Linked DNA regions of Homo sapiens. The protein of the gene in region 1 interacts with the protein of each later gene in a pairwise test. Each region holds a gene or a part of one and is shown in the gene's direction. Other genes may lie near its edges.

What was found.
Region 2: the proteins of ATXN1 (region 1) and LCA5L interact in binary tests that used the Homo sapiens proteins (3 or more experiments, as listed by UniProt).
Region 3: the proteins of ATXN1 (region 1) and TBX22 interact in binary tests that used the Homo sapiens proteins (3 or more experiments, as listed by UniProt).

Annotation. Positions count from the first base shown.
Region 1 is NC_000006.12:16,758,457-16,765,760, reverse strand, and holds the start of ATXN1 (ataxin-1), read left to right. Parts: upstream 1-4,300; 5' UTR 4,301-4,463; intron 4,464-4,594; exon of another isoform or gene 4,595-4,623; intron 4,624-5,576; exon of another isoform or gene 5,577-5,704; intron 5,705-7,304. UniProt on the Homo sapiens protein: Chromatin-binding factor that repress Notch signaling in the absence of Notch intracellular domain by acting as a CBF1 corepressor. Binds to the HEY promoter and might assist, along with NCOR2, RBPJ-mediated repression. Binds RNA in vitro.
Region 2 is NC_000021.9:39,407,779-39,414,807, reverse strand, and holds part of LCA5L (lebercilin-like protein), read left to right. Parts: intron 1-761; coding exon of another isoform or gene 762-1,004; exon of another isoform or gene 1,005-1,284; intron 1,285-3,005; coding exon 3,006-3,090; intron 3,091-3,870; exon of another isoform or gene 3,871-3,964; intron 3,965-4,440; coding exon 4,441-4,544; intron 4,545-4,711; coding exon 4,712-4,829; intron 4,830-6,130; exon of another isoform or gene 6,131-6,202; intron 6,203-6,890; exon of another isoform or gene 6,891-7,015; intron 7,016-7,029.
Region 3 is NC_000023.11:80,010,873-80,017,752, forward strand, and holds the start of TBX22 (T-box transcription factor TBX22), read left to right. Parts: upstream 1-3,880; 5' UTR 3,881-4,015; intron 4,016-6,880. UniProt on the Homo sapiens protein: Probable transcriptional regulator involved in developmental processes. This is major determinant crucial to palatogenesis.

The DNA of each region.
Region 1 (7,304 bases):
TTTGTGTTTCAACGTGGTAAAAATTAACAGTTTTCCAAAGGTAAGATCTGTTCTGCTCTGATCTCCTTGCACACTAAGATGTCTTACTCAATTTTATATTCTCAAGTCTTAGTTATTGTAGATGCAGAGTAAGTGACTGCTTGTAAATAAATAATAAATATATAAACATATTATCTAAGAATAACTTTGAAAAACCTTTAAAACTGTAAAAAATGCTCTGGATCTTTAGTCTGTATAATTTCCCTCATTTATGAATACCTCAAAGCACTACTGAAACAATTAAATGACTCAATGTTATGAAAGCACGATGTGGTTCCATAACTTTTTGGATACTTGGCTTTTACCAAGTATGTTATCTGCTTCAAGGGAGTTTTTGAGGATGCAATATGGAAGAGTAGTGAAAAGTATGAAATACTACGTAGGTATAACTGAAACCTAAATCCTCACCACTGCAAGCATTAAGGAGAAACCCCTAAAATTATTCTGAGTGTAAACACAGCAAAAGGCGCATGGACCTTAACCAACATGTATGACACCAAATGAAATTAAGTTACCTGATGTAGGGTCCAGTGAACTGACTCTGTTTTTAGATAAACAGGAGCTACTATTAGGGTTGCCTGATTCTGTGTTATCTTTGTTTTTGAGTAAAGCTAAGGCATCTTAGGGTTGCCTGATTCTGTGTTGTGTTATCTTTGTTTTTGAGCAAAGCTAAGGCATCTTTTTCACTTTTGAGGTCCACTTTCTTTTAAGAATTCAAGCCTAAAACTCTAAAGAAGTTTATCTTTATTTTATTCAACTTTCAATCTGTTCAGTTACATAGTTGTTATGACCTGGTAAGCCTATCTGTGTTTGCTCAGTTGATTTGCTTCATTTTGAACTACATAACAGGCTACTTCCAATGAAAACATATACTACAATGTAAAATCTGTCATGATTTGGAGAGACCTGTGCACTGGTTTTATTAAGCACTCTTGTGCTCCCTCTGCTGCCATGAAGAAAATGTTCATGTTCAAGACCCCAGTACATTCCTCAGCAGAGCATTCTTTTTTGGCAATAATGATGCAGATGTGTGCACTTACAGTGCAGTAGTATTTATCCAAAGCATATAACATAATAATTTTTCATTGAAAAGCACAAATTAATAAGGGCTGTACTTACTAAAAAGGAGCAAAAAAGAAATAAATAGAGGAATTAACTTCTGCACTTGTGCCCAAATTTATTTAGGTTGATCCCTGTGGTATAGACCAGTGTTCTTCACATGATAATGTGTTTAGAAATCACCCAGGGGCCTGGTTCAAAGGCAGATTCTGATTTGGTATGTCTGGGGTAGAACCCTTGACTCTGAATGTCTAAAAAGCTCCCAAGTGCTGCTGTGGCGACTTTGAAAACTACACTTTAAGTAAGGGTGTAATATGTAATTATATAATATATACTTGCTGGCCCATTTAACACCTTCAAGAGTAGATACCACCAAAACAGTAAAATAGATATGTGATTACAATTATTTTTCATGGTATTTAAGCAATCTATGACACAGGATACGAGTCAAGCTCATCAGGCCTTATTTATCGATTTCCTGTAATTTCAAAGGTTGACTTATGCTTTTACAAACATAACACCAGCCTTATGAGTAGGACTATAGTACTATATATTTGTCTACTAGCTTCTTGGAAGCTCTGCCCTTTTTCATTGAGTTTTTATTTGCACGAGAAAGTCTTGTTTCTAAAGAATCAGTGCCTGTTATTTGTGATTGTACACTTAATATTTTGCCATCTGAAAACAAAATATTTCAGTACTAAAGGTAATGAGACAGTTTCATGAGTATGGTGTTTATGTTGGATCTTGCAGGAAGAAATAGTTACAGATTTTGGTGGCAGTTTATGGCTTTAAACTTAATGGCTAAGAAAGTAAATGACACATTTCTTATTAATTGTTTTTACCATTTGGGTAATATACATATTTAGCTTCCTTGAGAGAACATTTAAATTAATTGACTAACTGTAATCTGAATTATGTGTTTTAATTTAAGGTTGTTAAAATCACGTAAATTAACTGCTTGTGCCAACGTAAAATTACAATATTAGCTTTTTTTTAACTGAAAATTATCTAAATGTAAGATGTCTAAAAATAGAGTGGAGGTGGATTGGACAGTTTGCAGATTATGAGTTGGAATAAAAACATCGCAGTTAAGCCAAAAACATGGCAACCAATATTTTCTGTTATAAAAATATTTGAGATGAATTTAGTTTTTATGAAAGCTGTCTGAAACTGAAATGAATAGCAGAAGCTTTCTGTTTATTCACAGTCCAGTAATAATAATACCTGCAGCACAAAGCATACGTCTTTTCTATATAAAGCCAACAAGCTTCTGCTCCTTTCTGAAGTCGTCTTTGCCAAGCAGGGTGTTGGGGGCGGGGGTGAGGATAGGGGTGAGGGGACATTTTACCCGGTTATGCTCTTACGTACTAACCTTCACCTTGACAAAGCTTGTCAACGAAAACAAAACCAGTCAGAGCCTTTTCAGGAAACTGATGTTAACTGTCCACTAGAGGCTGTAATGAGACCAACAATGTCACTTTAGACCAACCCGAGGTTTAAACCGTAACAATAATCGATTTTTAAATGGAAAAAAAAAAGTTGTAGAAATGAGTAAGAGTGAACACTAGTAGTTATACTTAAATAGCCACATATATGTGCATGGTATTTCAAAAATGTGAGAAAAAAATATTTCCGGGGCTCTGCACCTTCCTCGCTCGTATGTTTATTTTTATTTATGAAGCACGTAGGCTCTTGCAGGCCAGAGTTGTGTAAAAACTGACACTTTTTTTTTGGTCATCCTGTGCCCTGCCTCAGTTGGTGACTAACCGTTAGGTCATAAGTAAACTCAGCCAAAAGATCTCTCAAATACAGCTTACAGTCAAGATTGGTGGCTTTCAGAAAGAAACTTACGCGAAAGGATCATGTTTCCAGACACTTAGTTCTAAGCACCTGAAGAAGGTCAAATGTCGCCCGACACCTACCGGCCTTCCAGAATCATCTGCAACAAGAACGCCGCACTGAGCGCCCTTAGTCTGGAGGCGCCTCCTAGTCCTCCAGGTGCCACACCTGTTGGCAAGGTGCACCCATCCGAAGAAGATTCCTTCGCGTGGAGGTCACACCTGGCGGCGAGACAGGCGGAGGGGCGGGGTGGTGGGAGTCGGAGACCGCACTGAAACCCTGAGTCCAGATTTAAGTTCCTCGTCGATTCTCGAGAACTGCCATTTGATGCTCCGGTTGCTTTCTCTGTCTCCTACACTGGTTACCTCATTTCCGATTAAATTAATGATCCGAAATTAGCTGCGAGAGGAGTGCGCGGGTCTCCTTTCCAGGCTAGAGCGGAGTAGTTCCATATCAAAGCCGATTTCCGGACCTGCGTGCGAAGAGAGAAAGAGGGCAGGGTCGGGCGGTCGCCAGCGTTCGCCGGCAGGAAAGGTGAGGGTACCTGTGCAGTCGGGGGACCCCTTGAAACTTTCCGGAGTTGCACGCAGAGGCAATCCCCGCGGCCCCCAGGCCTGGGTTCCGGAACGCCGAAGCGACGCCGGTTTGTGGCTTAACGTGCAGCTGATGATCAGAGTGAGCCCTCTCAGATGCTGCTCCGAGCGCCTGGGACCAAGGACACGTCGGGATTAGAATGGGCCGACCTCCCCTCCCCGCTGGGGTGTTGCATCGGCTCCCAGCTGAAGCCTGACAGCCCTTGGGGGAGTCCCCCAGGTTGCCTGAGTAGCGCCCCGTTGTCGTTCAGTCCCCTCCAACTAGGTGCAGGGACCCAGGGAGGCGCGCGAGGACCGACCCGTCACCGCTCAAATTACCTCATCGCCCAGCTCCCCGCCCCCTTCCCAAACCTGGAAGGAACCTTGCCCTCCGGTCCGCGTCTCCCCTCCCCCGCACCCCATCCCGAGCCACTCTTTGGGAAAGGTGCCCGCCTCCCCGGGCGGCGCGCAGCGAAGGGTTAAGGGCGCGGGCCGGCCGCCGCGCGGTGCGCTCGCCGTGCTCTGTGCGGCTCGCCGGGCCGCCCGCCAGAGGGTGCCCCCCACCCCCATGAAGTCGGATCCTTGAGCTGCGGCGGCGGCAGCCAACTGCTCCATATTTGGCTTCTATTACACATTTACATACTGGAGCGAGCGAGCGAGCGAGCGCGAGAGAGCGCGAGGGAGGGAGGGAGGGCGGGCGGGCGGAGGGAGGAGGGAGGGGAGGGGAGCGGGAGGAGGGGGAGGAGGAGGAGGAGGAGGAGGAGGAGAGAGCAGAGTATACCGCAGACATCATTTCTACTACAGTGGCGGAGCCGTACAGGACCTGTTTCACTGCAGGGGGATCCAAAACAAGCCCCGTGGAGCAGCAGCCAGAGCAACAGCAGCCGCAAGACATTGTTTCTCTCCCTCTGCCCCCCCTTCCCCACGCAACCCCAGATCCATTTACACTTTACAGTAAGTGACTATTTTTTTTTCCTCCTCCGATTCTTTCCCCCCTCCCCCATTCCCTTCTCCCCTTATTTAGATTAAAATCCCTCCTCCCCCGATCTCCCGAGAGGGGCAAAAGCAACAACCAGCAAACAAACCCAAAACCCCAATCGGCTGCACGGAAAACAGCTGGAAGAGGAGCGAAGGAAATCGACGCGTCGTGTTCTGTGTGTGTGCGTGTGTGTGTGTGTGTGTGTGTATGTGTGTACATACAACCGTCCCCGGCTCCAGGCTCCCGGGCCGACACCCCCACTCTGGGCGCAGGGGCGGCCGGCGGGGGGGCTGTCAGGGGCTGGGTGGGCGCCCGCCGGGCTAGGGGGCGCGCCCGGGCGGGGGGCGCGGGCGGGGAGAGCGGCGGCGGCGCCCCGCTCCCCCGGCTGCTGGTCCGGTCGCAAGTGCGGAGAGCCATGTCCTCCTCCCTCCGGGTGGCGCAGGGGGGAGGCGGCGGCTGGGGTTGGGGGGTGGTCCCTTTCCCGGCCGCCCTCTTCCCATTCCTCCTCCCCGGAGAGGGCGGTGAGAGAGAGGGGGTCTCACGGAGGGCTGGACTTCTCCGCGGGTGGTCGCCCGGCCTCGGCGCCCTGGGGCGGGGGTCTCCCCTCGGAGGGCCGGCCTCGCCGGGTGTGCGGCTGCGGGCGGGGAAGGGACTGCTCCTGCAGCCGGGACGGGACTTTGCGCGCGGCCGGGTGCCGGGCGGGGGGCGCAGAGGGGTGGCCTCGGGGACCGCGCGGGGGTAGCGGGTGTGCGGGTGCCTGGAGCGCGGCTGGAGTGGCGGTGACGGCCCTGGCCGCCGCCGCCACCGCCGCCCTGTTGGTGCGGCCGCTTCCTGATCATGTGCAGCGGCAGCCGCCGCCCGGAGCCGGGAGCCCGCGAGCGCCCCAGTCCGGGCCGGCGCCCCCGCCAGCACCCGCGGCAGGAGACGAGGAGCCGCGGCAGGCGCTGCCCTGAGCCGGGAGTGAACGGCTGCGCGGCTGCTGGGAGGGTGAATGAAGCCAGGAGGAGGGGAAGGAGGAGGAGGCGGCGGCCGCCGCGGAGGAGGCGCTGCGGGGATTGGGATGCGCCCTGGAGCCCCACTGCTCGTTCACTCTGGGCCGGGCCGGAGACTCTGCCACTCCCGGGGGCGCCGCCGCCTCCTCCTACGTGGTTCCAGTGCTGCGCGCAGGCCGGTCCCGCAGGGGGCAGGGAAGGGGGCCGGACGGGCGGAGCGAGAGGTGAGGCGGTGTCGGAGCGCGGCGTGAGTGTGAGTGAGTGTGTGAGTGACTGTGTGTGTGTATTTGTGCGCGCGCGCGCCGGGCGGGGGGCGAGGGCCGTCGCGACGCGGAGGGGGCCCTTCCTTGGCTACTTGGCTGACTCTGCAGCGCCCCGACCCCTCTTCAGCCCCCCGCCTTCAGGCTGCCTTCTTAAACTCCGTGGCTTGTGCTTTCATTTTGTTTCAGACCACGTAGGGGGCTGACTGAAAGGGATGAAACAATTCAGGTTTTCTAGGGAGATTGAGCAAGAACCTTAGTGGGGGTGGAAGTAGGGTGGTGATCGAGACTCTGCCAGAAAACAAAACAAAACAAAAAAAAATCCGTTTCTAAGGACGGCGGGGATTCGGTTCGAGCCCGTGGCTGCTCTGTTTTGTTTTGCTTTCTTGGTATATAATCCTACAGATAAAAGGGTAATATAAATATTTGAGAAGAGGGAAATTGCTGAAGAGTAGTAAGGGCAAAAAAAAAAAAAAAAAAAAAAAAAAAACAGTCGGAAGAAGCTGGTTATATAATGCGCGATGTGGCTAACAAGAAAGGCAAGCTATTTTTATTTTGTTTACCGTATGCTGTGCAGTAGGGACTCCTCCAAACTGGTTCTGTCCCCGAAGAGATTCTTAGCTTCCCTGCGAGATCCACAGGATACAATTAGCAAAATTAGAAGACCCTATTACACCCACAGAATAAAAACTAATGCCTTACAGTGGCTTTCTCCCTGCACATCCTGTCGTGCATGCACGGGAATGTGTGTATGCAAATAAGTTCTCCTTTGGCAATCTAGTAGTCACATCTCAATGACATTTGTGTTTTATAATGCAGGCTGTTTTTAATATTTAAACATCATTGTTATATATTGCACACAGCAGTGGGTAGTTACTTGGTTATTTTTAGGCACAGCTAGTTACTTTTTCAACAGTGTTAGCTGAGACATTTCTGTTTGGGTTTTTTAGGAGGCTGCAGTTCCTAGAAGCCCCCCTTAAGCCCACCCTTCGGTTTATTTGATGGGTAAAGGTAGTTTGATACTTGAGCTTTTTTTGGAGTGAAGCTTATGTCTGAGGAAACCACCAGAGAGAAGAGAAAATCCTGCACAGGAACTCTTGGAAAGGGATTGCACCATAACGGCTAGCGCTGTGGCATTTAATCTCCTCTGATTGCCCTCTCACTGTGCATGCATCAGTCAATATTTTAGCAGCTCCGCAAATAAATGGACTTGAATGCCATCTTCTACATAAAGCAGAGGTTGAAGGGCTCCCCTGAACCTCCTGGCTGCCTGTCAGTGGTGTAGGTTTTCGGTGCACTTACTCCAGTCCTGATCACTCATGTAATTAGATCAGGCTGCCATGGCAACAGACAGTGTTCCTCGTCCATTCAGGTGGGTTTGTCTTGTGCCTGAACTACTCCAAGTGTTTTATGCACAGCATTTATGCTGCCCAAGCCAGACGAGAGACTCCACTATTTCAATTGCATCTTCTTTCAGTCATTTGGATGGGAGACACTGAATGAGGCTTCTAGCTACTCAACTTTTATAAAGGAGACCAACAAGCTGTTCTTCCTAGGTGCAGTA
Region 2 (7,029 bases), on another chromosome or scaffold:
AGACAATCACAAAGTAAAATATGCACAGACACACACACACACACACACACACACACACACACACAGAGAGAGAGAGAGAGAGAGAGAGAGAGAGGGAGAGAACCAGACAGATGCAGTACTGCCTTTTATGACCTAGCCTTGGCAGTCACGCAGCATCACTTCTGCCTCACAGCATTTGTCAGGGCAGTCCTAGGCAGTTCAAGCAGTGAACTCCACCTTTTGGTAGCGAGTCACGAGGTTGTTGAAGAGCATATAGGACTAGAAATCTTGTCGTGGGAATTCTAGGAAAATACAGTCTGCCACATTAACGAAAGTCATAGTTTGAGCTTGGAAGAGTCTGGTCCCAAAGGTCAAAAGTTCGTTTCTTTACTTTGAAACTCATTTTCAAAGTCATCCCACACCGAGTTCTAGGCCCACTTCTGCAGTATGAGCCGAAGTAAGAAGAGGGATGTCAGCCTTCCACAGCTCCCACGTGAGGTACTGCCACCCGTCTTACACCCAGGCTACGGTCACACTCCTGCATTAAGACACTGCTTTCTATCTAAGTTCCGGAAGCCATCAATGCTGACCTTAATATGATTCCACACCATGACCCAACTTCCCATTTAACTCTTCCTTGATACCCTTTGTGCTTGCGGGCAGGCTTTGCGCTGAGTATTCCACGAGCATTGCATGAACACTCCCAGCCACGGGTTAGCTTCTTGTTTCCCTTGACTGACTGAACCCAACCACACAAGTATCCCGGGTTGTGTTCCAAACAGGCTGTGTTAGACTTCTGGCCCAGCTCTGTCGTGGTGCCCAACCTGAAGCTCTGCTCCAAGCCGCAAGGAGGACCGTCCTCCAGGTTGCTTCCTTTTGACCCACGCCGCCCCTGTCGCAGCCTCTTGTTGTTGTTCTGTTGTTGCTGTGCCTCCTTCCTGCTCTCGGTTGCTGACCTCCAGGTGTCCAGACCAAATCAAAAGATAGAACTGAATTTTTCAGGTAATCAAAATGTGTCCCTGTAAACATGAAAATGTTTCCTAACCAGTGTGGATGAAAACTCATTCTAAAATGTTTTACACAGTATCCTTCATCTGAAAGCTATTATCCAGAATACACCTGATCAACTTTTCATGGTGATGAACTGTCAGCATTTACTGTTCTTTTGGCTGTTACCACAATAAGAAAAGAGAGATGAACTGTTAACATTTTTGCCTCCAGAAACTTAAATTCTAGAAAAGATTAATATTCTCATGTTTTATCCCTTTGTGTACCTCTGATAATAAACTAATTTTATGATTCAAATGAGTAGAAAATTTACACTGTACAATTCAGGTACAAAAATATGTCATGTTCTTTATTTTCTGTAACTAAGCCATACTTCCTTATGAGCCCCAGTCCCACAAATTAGGGATGAGGATGGCAGTTGGACAAGAAGAAATGGATAAAAGCTTGTCTCAGTCTCTTCTAACTCAAAACAGTCTTATGCTAGGTTGTCTCTTAGACTTGCAGACTTTTTCCTCATCCCTATCTTCTGTCTCAGTGGAGATGGCATCCTGGGCATGAGAGAAAACATATGTGTACTCTTGGTGGAGTGAAAAAGAGGCCTCTGGTCTGTGTTCTGCCCTCTGGCCCCTCTCTAGAGCTGGTTCTCCTGACGAGTGACTAGTCTTAAATCAAATTCCCAGGACCCTGTCTGATGTGTACTGAATGTGGCTGCTAAAACTCCTGGCCTCTTCTCAGTCTGGTCAAATAAATCCTGGTGATTGTCCCCTGCTGACTGTTGATGCAAATGCTCTGAGATGCATCCTCCATCTGATCCCTGGCTAGATTCTCTGTTGCAAAGCCTGTGCTATGGGAGCACCTGGATCTGTAACCTTAAGGACTCCAGGGCAGGTGCAGCTCCCTCCACAGGTCCCACTGGTTGCAAGGGTAAGGGAAGCACAATCTCTGGCCTAGAGAGGGTATTTAGCCCTTTCTAACTTACACTTGGGCAATACCATGTTACTTTAGCTCCATGATGAATGGGGCGGCGGGGGAGGCGCTTTTTAAGGGGCTTGCAATTTTCCTGGACCACGCCAAGGCCTCTTGCACTGAGACTTTCCCAAACCTCAGAGATGTTTCTCACCCCCTGAATATCCCTTGGCCCATAGATTTGACCCTAAGGGGCACAAGGAGACAAGAGCTCTCTCTCCCCGCCCCACCCCCCGTGTGTGTGTGTGTGTGTGCACATGCACGTCTGTCACACTCTGACATCCCTGGGTTCCTTCCTCCTTACTTCATATATGCCCACCTCTCTTAACCATGGTTGTTACTAAAATTCAATGGTCTTGAGTCCAAAGCCTTTCTTGCCTCCTGGTGTACATGTAAGAAGGAGCATTTGATATTTAATAAAAACCCTTTCTTTGTTCCTCAACAAGTTAAGGTTTCAAAATGTCTGTTTTGCCAAGACTCAAAAAAATCAATATGAAATTTAAAATGGAACAATGATACCCTTGTTCTAGGCTTCCCCCCCGGCCCTTGTCTAGACGTAGCCCTGTCTCATAGAACTTTCTATTAGATGGTGGAAATGTTCACCTGTGCCATCCAATACTGTAGTCACTAGTCACACACAGCTGCTGACCGCCTATTGGAAATACAAATAGTGTGGCTGACGACCTAAATTTTAGTTTTACTTTCATTTAAATGAAATCACAACATATAGTTAGTGGCTACTGTAATGCACAGTACAGAAGAATATTTCATAAACTTCAAGGCCCACAGGACAGAAGGAAAACAGTGGACAAGCTGACCTGCAAGGCTCTTCAAAAATACTGTCCCGATCACAATAATGTGTCACTTTGTTTAAAGAGCTAGTACTTTTCGATGTCAGGAATGGTATAGGATGATATGGCCTATTTCTGTTTCTTCTAAAATCTACAGATTTTATTCATAGGATACTGAGCTCATTTAAATTGTTTTTAAAAGAAATCAGGGTTGACAAAAGCAAGCATTTATAGAAAAATTGGTTTTGTGGTTCTTTTTAGGAAAAGGATCGTGAGCTTGAAATTAAAAACATCTATAGTCATCGAATACTTAAAAATTTACATGACACAGAGGACTATCCAAAAGGTATGTTTTAATTACTTTTGCTCAAAATCTATTTTTAAGTATCTAGTCAGATTTTCCTAATTTATATAGACAAAATAATGGATATTTTCAAAAATCACTTCATTAGGCATTAAAATACATTTTGTGATTCTAGAAGAATAACGAGACTGAGATGGTGACATGGCTAGCAAGGAATAGAAATGCTTTCCCGTTCTCCCATCCTCAGCACACCCCTTTATGTCCTTTCTTCAGGTGGAGCAAAAGGATAACTTCAGCTTGAAGCAAAATGTCTGCCAAAAAGTGAACTTTCTAAGTGTATCTGTTAGCCAGTGTATGGCTTTTCAAAATGAACTTTATTGGGGTATACTTGACCTCAATAAAATGCATCCATTTTAAGTGTGCACGCAGCTCAGTGGGTTTTGACAGATGTTTATACCGATGGAGCCACCACCCCAATCAAGATATTGAATATTTCCACCTCCCCAGGAAGTTTCCTCGTGTCCCCTGCAGTCAGTAGTCCCCTACCTCACCCGAGGCAACCACTGACTTTCCTTTGGTCACAATAGCCTAGGTTGTCTGTTCTAGAATTTCATGTAAGTGGAATCCCACAGCTGCACCCTTTTGTATCTGGCTGCTTTTGTTCAGCATAGTGTTTTTGAGATTCATCTATATTGATGCCACTATCATTAGTGTATACCTCTCATTGGTGAGGTCTTCTTTTCTTCAAGAGCACGTGCACTGCTTTCCCCCCAAAATCTCCCAGCAACAGATTCGACTCAGAAGTACCATAGGAATACTCACCTCTGTTTTATTAGAAGAAGTAGCTACATGTTTACTTCCAGATGCAACAACCTCAAATTTCCTTGCCTGCCTTTGTTTGCTTCTGGCTTATAATCTAGAATAATAGAGACAATGAATCAACCGAGGGGTTGTTTAAATGATATAATTTCCTTCACTTTTCAGGAAAGTGCAGTCTAGATTTAGTGGTCATGCGCTTCAGCATGGACAGTCTAACCACTGATAATCAAGAGCTCCGCCACAGGATAGCTCGGTGGCCTGGCCTCTCACAATTACACGTCTACCTTGCTGAATCCCATCCACAAAGGACAGCCTTGTCCTCCAACAGCAACAATGTCTTATCCTAACACCTACTTGTTTTATACTCAAACACTGTGAGGCCCAAAGTAAGACAAAGCAAGGGCCCTGGAGGGAAAAACAGGAAACTAACAAATGCTTATATATATATTGAATATTTAGAAAATACTTAGTATACTTTATTATTACATTGCATAAAAGTTATTTTATGTTTAAAATCAATATTGTATCCAAATGTAAAATATGTTTCTTACATATAATCTACCTGTTCCATAGTTTCTTCAACAAAATCAGTCCAAGCAGACAGAAAAATTTTGCCATTCACAAGTATGAGACACCAGGGAACCCAAAAATCAGATGTTCCACCTTTGACAACTAAGGTACAGCAAATTTGGAATCTTGCAGTGTCTGATTAAACATGTCTTAACAAAAATAGGCTACAGTCACTTGTTCTATGTGAAAAGTATTTGTAGTCATTAGAATAAAATGCAATTTTAAGTTATCTAGACCCCCCAAAATGTGTTTTTGCTGCTTTTCTAAATTACAGGGTAAAAAGGCAACAGGAAACATCGATCATAAAGAAAAATCAACTGAAATAAATCATGAAATTCCTCACTGTGTGAATAAACTACCAAAGCAAGAGGATTCTAAGAGAAAATATGAAGGTAATTTTAACTCTTTAAAGTCTATCTTATCTGATTTCTTTAAAATTGTGAATTACTATATGTGTATATAAAGCACACATAAAACAGCTGGGCATGGCAGCTCGCACCTGTAATCCCAGCACTTTGGGAGGCCAAGGCAGGCAGATCACCTGAGGTCAAGAGTTTGAGACCAGCCTGGCCAACATGGTGAAACCCTATCTCTACTAAAAAATACAAAACTTAACCGCACATGGCGGTATGTGCCTGTAATCCCAGCTACTCAGGAGGCTGAGGCAGGAAAATCGCTTGGACCCAGGAGGCAGAGGTTGCAGTGAGCCAAGATCGTGCCACTGCACTCCAACCTGGGTGACAGAGTGAGACTCTGTCTCAAAAAATTAAAAAAAAAACATAAAACCGTTTCCAGAATTATAATGAAAGGAACACCTATGTACCCAGTAGCCTGCTTAAGAAACAGTGGATGAGTACTCCTTGGAACACCCTTGGGCCCTTCACAATCATATCCCCTCGCCCTGCCCACCAGAAACCACCACCGTCTTGGGTTTTAGGCCAGTCATTCCCTTGCTTTCCCTCACAGCTCCCTGTCTTTATATGTAGCTACATTCGTCTGCTTGGGCTGCCATAAGAAAATACCACAGACTGCCGGTTTAAACAACACTTATTTATTTTCTCATGGTTCTGGAGGCTAGGAAGTCCGAGATCAAGGTTCTAGGCATTTGGCTTCAGTTAAGGCCCTCTTCCTGGCTTTAGATGTCCCGCTTCTCACTATGTCTTCATGTGGCGTTTCCTTAGTGCTCGCACGAGGAGAGTCGGGGAGAGAGCACCAGTGCTCCAGTGTTTCTTTTTATAAGGACACTAATTCCGTCATGAAGGCCCCAACCTTGTGATCTCATTTAACCTTAATTACTTCCTTAAAGACCCAGTCTCCAAATATAGCCATACTGGGGGTTACGGCTTCAACATATGAAATTTGGGAGGAAGGAATACAAACATTCATTTCATAATAGTATCCTTAAATAATATATTCAGCTTTGAAAAACTGAGTAGCAAATTATTCAAATCCAGCTGAGCAAAGGGCAATATTACCACTTTTGAATAAAGACTTCCAGAAAAAGGACCCCAGCTTCAGCTCCCTTGAATATACAAGGGCCCAATCAGTGGGTGAGGTCCTGAATCATCCTGGGAGATAGAAAAACCCTCAGATCCATGGCATCTGGCAGAGCTCTTCTGGGCAGGCCCAAGAGAGCTAGGGCCAAGAGAACGGGCTGCCCAGATTTTCCTATTCTAAGATCACCAAAGCTTACCTTCAGCTCTTGGGAGTAGGTGGAAACAAACTGCTTCTTTGGGTTCCAAGGAGAGTCCTCAGCTGGCCCAGACTGCAGGGTTTGATAGAGAGTACAACACTTCATCAGCCATGGGCAAGACAGGCCAAGGCCCTGGCTCACCTGGTGTTTGGGACCTGGAGGTCTAATGGAGCAGGGGTCCTAGTCTGTCTCCTCATCTCTGGTGTGCAGCTAACATCCTGGGATTGCCCTTCATCATTTCCTGCAGATTCCTGTCACTCCCCTTCTCTACTGGATCTTCTCTTTCCTAAGCCAAGTCCTCCTCTTTCTTGGTAAATTCCATCATGTTTTAAAGAGCACAACCTTCACTAGCTTCTTGTAAATGGGTGCAGGTAAGGTAAATTTGTATACCTCTCATCTGGAAGTGTCATTATTCTGCCCTTACACTTGATTAATACTTGCCTAGATAGGAAACTCTAGGTTGAGGGTCATTTTCCTTTGGAATTTTGAAGATGTGGCTCATTGTTTTCATGTTACATTACCACTCGTGGGAGATCTGGCTGCAGCCCCGCAAGGCTGGGTAAGAGCAACTTCTGAGGAAAGTACATGCATGATGAATGAGTCCCAGAGTTCATTCAGGGCTGCAAATCAGATGTGTTCCCTTAGGCAGCATGGAGAGCCCTTGTTGAACACATTGGGCCTTCAGTAGAGGCCCAAGGGCCTCACCTTAGTTGTAAGGCCAAATAATGTTTAAATAACACAGTAGTTTGACAGAACTCACCGGCAAAGCCACTCTCTCTGTTGCAGTTTGGTGGAAACTGATCGTCAGTTGCAGTTGCACTGTGGTCACTGGTGTGTTTAAATTTTCTGCTTATTTTTCAGTCCATTGTCCTAATTCATAGTGTCCTAGAAAGTGTATC
Region 3 (6,880 bases), on another chromosome or scaffold:
AATTATTGTAACTGGTTCAATAGATTATTCTTAGGCTAACATATATGTGTAAATTCATTAAATTAATAATTGTTTGCAAGTTAATATCCAAAGTTATCTCATTGGGCTCCCTAGGTGATGATGTGCTAATTGCCCCTGGAGCTGGCCACTTGTATTTTTTTAAATAGAGGTAACTGGCAAATCTGGACACAGTTAAGCAATTATGCTAAGTAAGAGAGAGAATGCTGTCTGAAATTCTAGCCAACAATTATCCATTAATCATGTCCAATATTTTTTTTCTATGGATGGTAAAAAATAAACCGCCTAAACTCTCCCAATTTAAAAATATGAGTGGCATTTTGTTACATTCCGGCAAGGGGAATAATATCAGAAACTTCTTGGCTTCTCACAAAATAGTGTTTTTAATAAATCGATGGCGCCCTGGATCATGGTCTTTCAAAGGTCATGCTGGTCCAGGAAGATACTGGGAAGCTGAATCACAGGTCGGATGATATAACTGGGTAATAGGGATTCAGAGGAGCACCGGAAAATGGCACTTGTGCTTTGACTTTCTAAAGTGTTTGTAAAACGGCCTGTTTGACCCAGACAGAGCTTTACTATCACAGGAAAGTGCTTTTGGAGTCCCTGATGAGTGCAGCAACCTCACCCCAAACTTTTGAGCACATCTTGGCGCCCAGAGCAGCCATTCGCGACCTAAATTACTAAGTCAAGATTCAAGCTCTACAGCAGCAAAGGTCCTGTGAGGTACGCTTGGCTGGAAGAAAGCTAGGTATCTGGCTCTGCCCAGAAGGCGCCCGCTCCGCAAACTGCTGGGAAGTTCTGGTTTGTTCCAAGAGTAGCACCAAGGAGACAAAGGAACATGCAAAATAGGATAGCTTATGCTGGCTGCAAGAAGCTGCAGTCGGGTTTTTGCCCCTGGGCCCTCTGATAATCACCGCAGGGACTTGGGGCAGGAGCAGGCTATTGGAATGATGGCAGACGGTTTAAAATTCCTTACTTGCTGATCCCTGAGCAGTGGTCTTGTAGAGTCACCACAGCACTGGAGATTGGCAGCTAGCTCCACCACTAATGTGCTCTCTTAAATCTCGATTACTTGAGGCGGATAATGGAAGAATGAAGTTACCTACCTGATTTGTTATTGTTGCTGCTGTGAGGTTTAAGAGTTAACATGTAGCAACATGAGGATTAAGAGTTAACATGTAGCAAGATAGCAAGCTTAAAAAAAGAAAGAGAAAGACAGAAAGAATGAAAGAAAAGAAAGAAAGAAGGAAGAAAGAGAAAGAAGAGAAAGAAAGAAAGAAAGAAAGAAAGAAAGAAAGAAAGAAAGAAAGAAAGAAAGAAAGAAAGAAAGAGGTAGTGGTTATTGTTGGAGGCCTCACACCTGTGAGTGGTATCGCCCCAGAACTCTGTCAAAGTCTCCTGAATCTTGAGAAGCCAAGCCCTTGTTCTCTTCTATTGGGCTGCTTCCTCGGGTACGACTTTGTAGGAGCCACCAGGAATTAAGTGCACCTGCTAAGGTCATGAGACAAGATGAGCCTCTTTGGAATGCCAAAATTTGCCCCCAGCAGACCGCACTGCTGCGTCTACCCAGGCAGTATACATCTAGCCCTTCACATGTAATCATGTTGAATTGAGTTTTTGGCAACACTTGTCCCTGGCTAACTACCTGATTCTGCGGAGCGTCAGAGCCTGGTCTCTCAAAAGCCCTCTCCCCAAAGGCCAGAAGTGAAGTTTCCCCCGGCCGTCATGGCCCTGAAACGGAGCACTGCAGAGCTCACAGAGGGGAGTGGAGATGGGAAGAAAGACACTGTTTCCTGAGTTGCCTGGATAGGATTATTTATGACGTAGCCACAAGCCTCTTCTGCTACAGCAGGCGGAGACCTTGCCACCTCAGGATTATGCTGCCACTTGCACTTAGCCTTCTTCCCGCATATACACACCCAGCGACATAAAAAGGGCACTCCTGCCCTGAGTTTGGAAATGATGTTTTGTGATGAGAGTCTAGTCCTGGTGGCTCACTCCTCACTGTCTATTGCTCACCGGCACGGAAAACTCTCTTTCATTCATAAATAATTGCCTTGCGCATTACTGTAGAAGAAAACTTAGTTAACAAATTCCTTTGTTTTGCTTGTGAAGTTACCAGATTTGGTTAGTAATTGCCTGCTTGATCAAAAGCCATTTCCTTCGTGGTTAACCAAACATCAACTTGTCTCTGTTGGGCCCGTTTTAAATATCACCAAAAGTGAACAGCCCCAATTACGACAGGAAACACATTTCCCGACATTAAACAAGGAACAGAAACAGATTTGTCGTGTTTCAAAATGCACATAGTTCTATGGATGGGCTCACATGCTGTTCTTATTTGCAACCTTCTCTCCCTAAACAAACACACAGGAGCGCGAAGACACAAACACATTCTTCTTTCAGTGGGTGTAGAAGGATTCTTGGAAAATCCTGTCTCTGAGTTATCTTCAAAAATGGCTGAAACTTATTACTGTGACACTTTTTAACTTGAAAATCAAGATAAAGTAAAGGGGAAAGTCTAAAATAAAATAAAATACAATCACTATTTTACTTTTCTTGAAAGAAGGGAAAATATTTGCCAGGAAAAATACTTTAGAGAGACTGTAGTCCTCTTCAGACATTTAAAACTTTCACATGAGATAGTAAAATAAATTTAAAAATTAAAAAATAATCCCTTGAGTTTTTGTGTGGTTGACTGTGAGCTGCAAATCTCAGGAACACCGGAATGCATTTATAAACCCATCAGAAATATCACCGTCACTATTTGGCATTCAGTATTGATAAGAAATGCGTGGTCCTCCTTGGCCTCTGGTTTTTCAGGCAGGGTTATAACAGGCATTATCTGCTTCAGGGGTTTTATTTGGGAAATCCCCTGGGTCCTTCCTAGTTATCCATGGCACTGCGGTGTGGTAGCCCAATGCGGGGTAGCTGGGGTTTCCTGCATTACTTGAAAGGTATGGTGCTCTCTGCAATGGAGAAAATAAATTTAAAAGCTATAGAATTCGTCCAATTAAACCGCACTAATCCAGAATCTGTCTTCTCTTCTATGAGAGCCTCTTCACTAGAGGATAAAATGAGCATTGATTTTTCAAGTACCTATGGATCACTTATTGCTAGTAAATTCTTCTGACTTAGGGCCTTAAGCCCTTTTCGATTCTCTCTGAGCTGCCCTGGAGAAATAAACCAACAAGTAAAAATCAAACATGTTCTATTTTGCAGCAGAAAAATGTGTCAGCCAAGACATTTCTGGGATTCGCTGTGCATTAAATTGTGTGTGTGTGTGTGTGTATATGTGTGTGTGTTGGATCTTTCCTTTAGGAGGTGTAAAGTTTTGTTTATGTGGCGCTTGCAGACTGAGAGGGGGATCCTGGCCACTGAGAGTCTCTACACTGCCTGGGAATCACTGCCTGAGGCTGAATGGGTCTCTTAGTGGATGACTCCAGAGCTGAACCCCTTGAGTGGAGCTTCTGAGCTGCTGTTGTTGATTGAGGATTGAAAAGTGTTTTCCAACTGCAAGTGCTCCTGCTGGGCATGGAAATGAGCTGACTAGACTTGTAAAGTCAATCCACTCCTGCTTCAAAGGCATTTTTTCCCAAGTGCATTAGCCTGTAGCTCAGAGCAGGATGCAGCCAGGTATGGTTGCAACCGGGAGGCTGAGGTAGGATGCAGGGTGCCTGCAGCCTTGAGGCTCTGAAAGCTGAAATCACAGACTGTCATTGTGACTTCATGGCCAACCTTGAGTAACAGCAGGTCTTCTGTGGGAGAAGTTGCTGGAGTCCAACCCCGGAAGTAGCAAGTGCCTCTCCCACAGCTGAGGGCCAGAACACCACGTTCTCTTGTGCTCTGGCTCTAGGCCACTCTTCTCTGGGCTCTTGAGAAGAGCTGCTGCAGGCATTTGCAGAGTGAATGAGCTCTGACTGAGACTTGACTTCAGAACCACTGGGCTGGCCTGGCCTCTTGACACAGCAACACACTGCTTCTTGCCTTCCAGGTAAATACCTCTGCCTTACTGACCATGTTATGGGTTTTAGTGGGACATCAGTACAGGGATTCTCCTCAGCCTCTTCCTCTCCTGTTAACTATCACTAACCAAGTCCCTAACATTAGGAAAGTCCAACTGATAACTGTCAGTTTCATCTTTCATTAACTGGGGGTTTTGTGACAGAGATCTTGCAATCACTACTTCTCGGGGGACTGGAAGTAGAATATTAGTGCTCTTTAAAATTAATGAAGGCTAGACTTGTCCAGTCTGTTAAGAGTATGCTGTAATACCCAAAGAAGCCAGCAATAGTCCCTCTCCTAGGCAGCAATGCAGCCAGAAGGCTCCCAGGCCCAGGATACTATGCATTAGTGCTCACAGATCTTGTTTAGGGAGCTAGGGAGCAAGGGGAAGGGACGGGAGTGCCTCCTGGAAGGTGAGGACTGAAGCCAACGTGGAAGTCACTGAGCTGAGTGGCAGGTGTCTAACACTGAAAAGTGGCCCTAGCCAAGGGCTCTAAGTAGTGGTACTTTCTACCGAGGCTCTTCCCCAAGGAGCTCTAGATCCACAGAGGCAGAAGGATTATTTGATCTTCTTTGCACTCATTTGATTTCAGGAGGAGGTCTGAAGTCCCAAAGCATGGGCATTGGGGTGAGAGAGGGAACATCAAAGTGTGCCAAAAAAGATTGTTTTATTTTACTTATTCCTGATTTTTCTTACCAGAGCTTGAGCTCATACACCGCATTGTAACACAAACACACAAGCACACATACCACACACACACACATGCCTTCAAACTAGAGAAGGGGACTACAGAAAGCACCTGGCCATAAAAGGCATGTCAAGGAGTTTGCTGTAGGGTGGTGATATGGTTGCTTTGTTTCAGTTCAGCAGACTTATCTCCATGAAGACCTTATTGTTTTCTGTGATTTCTCTTTTGTATTTTTTAAAATTTGTCTTTATTTCTTAATTATTAAAACCTTCCCTTTTGCCCCTCGGAGCATTGATCAGGGTTTACTAACTACAAATATTTACTTCATGAAGGAGCAGTTTTTTCTCTAGTAATATTAATGTGGGGACCCTGGGAAGGAAGACAGTGTATGAAAGAAGGCATAGATTGGCTTCAAGCACAGGCAGTATAGGTGTTTGCCTATATTTGGTGTTTTGATAGACTTAGGGAAAATCCCTCAGCCTACTACCAAATATTTTTGAGTGTCAGTACATCTGTGGTTGTTAGGTATTGAAAAGCCCTGATTAAATACAGATAATTATGAGAATATGGAAAGAAGCCTTTAGTACCTTATTCGCATGTCCTAGGAATGATGAGGTAGGGTGCCAAGTTAAGAAGAGGAAAATATATTGTAAATATCCAGGAGTAAGTAAATAGTGAAAAGATTAGCACGAGATTTGGTGGGCCCAATGGAGTTCAGGATGATTTCTTTCTTAACAGAAGGATCTGCTTCTGTTGGGCTCATGGCTGCCCAAATTAGGCAGAGCCAGATGATGACTCACTGATCTGAGAACTGAGTGGAGTCATTTGGTGAGAAAGCGTGTGTAGGGGAAGAGGGTGTAAAGCAAGCATTTTTCTAGTTTTAGGAAGATAAAATAATTCCTCATAAACAGTATTTTTTTTCAATAATTCATTGATGCAATTAACTTGGCATATCTCCGTTCAAGTGATCTGAGCCAGTGATATTTTGCTATATGTCTGAATTATTTATTTTAAAATATCAAACTGGCACCTGCAGTCATTTTTCAAATCCTAGCCCACTTTCTTTGAGGCTGATGCATATAGCATATTTGGAGGTAACTCTGACTCTCATCCTCATTTTTAAAAAGGCAGCATGATGCCAGGTGCGGTGGCTCAAGCCTGTAATCCCAGCACTTTGGGAGGCTGAGGCAGGCAGATCACCTGAGGTCAGGAGTTCAAGACCAGCCTGGCCAACATGGTGAAACCCCGTCTCTACTAAAAATACAAAAATTAGTTGGGCGTGGTTGAACACGCCTGTAATCCCAGCTACTCAGGAGGCTGAGGCAGGAGAATCACCTGAAGCTGGGGGGCAGAGGTTGCAGTGAGCTGAGATTGTGCCATTGCACTCCAGCCTGGGCAACAGAGGGAGATTCTGTCTCAAAAAAAAAAAAAAAAAAAAGCATGAAAAAAAACAAAGAAAAGGAAAGAGGAAAGATGGGGGTGGAGTAGGTAAAAGAAATGTATAAGGCATAATACCCAAGTTAAAATGACCTAACCTAAAAATTCACATAGCACAAACTCTACCCATGAAAAAATATTATGTCCAGCAGTCCTGATTGAGCCTTCAGTTAATATATGACTGTGCAAGTGCCAATGGAGCACCAGAGAGGTAACATAAAAAGGAATAGGTTTGACACTAGTTTGGTGTTGTTTTTGTGTGTGTGTGTGTGTGTGTGTGTGTGTGTGTGTGTTTTCTTTAATTTTGTTCATTAGGTTTTGTAGAGACAGGATCTTGCTATGTTGCCCAGGATGATCTCGAACTCCTGGACTCAAGCTATCCTTTTCCCTCAGCCTCCCAAAGCACTGAGATTACAAGTGTGAGCCCATATACCTGGCCTTAAGCTCAATGTTTTAATGGAGAGTGTTTGAGGACTAAAAGAGACAGGATGCATTTATAATTATTTATTATTTTCACTGCTCCAGGAAGTCAAAGACAGCTGAAAGGTGACCATACAATGCCTCTTCTGGCAATTACTAGAATCACCATAGGGTAGAATTACATTTGGACTTTCAAAAAGGTTTTTTCTTTTTCGTTTATTCATTTATCCTGCTCAAAATTAGCCACGTACAAAATTGTCCCCATAATTCTGGTGGCAAATTTCCTAGGAAATTTTTAAAAATTCTAT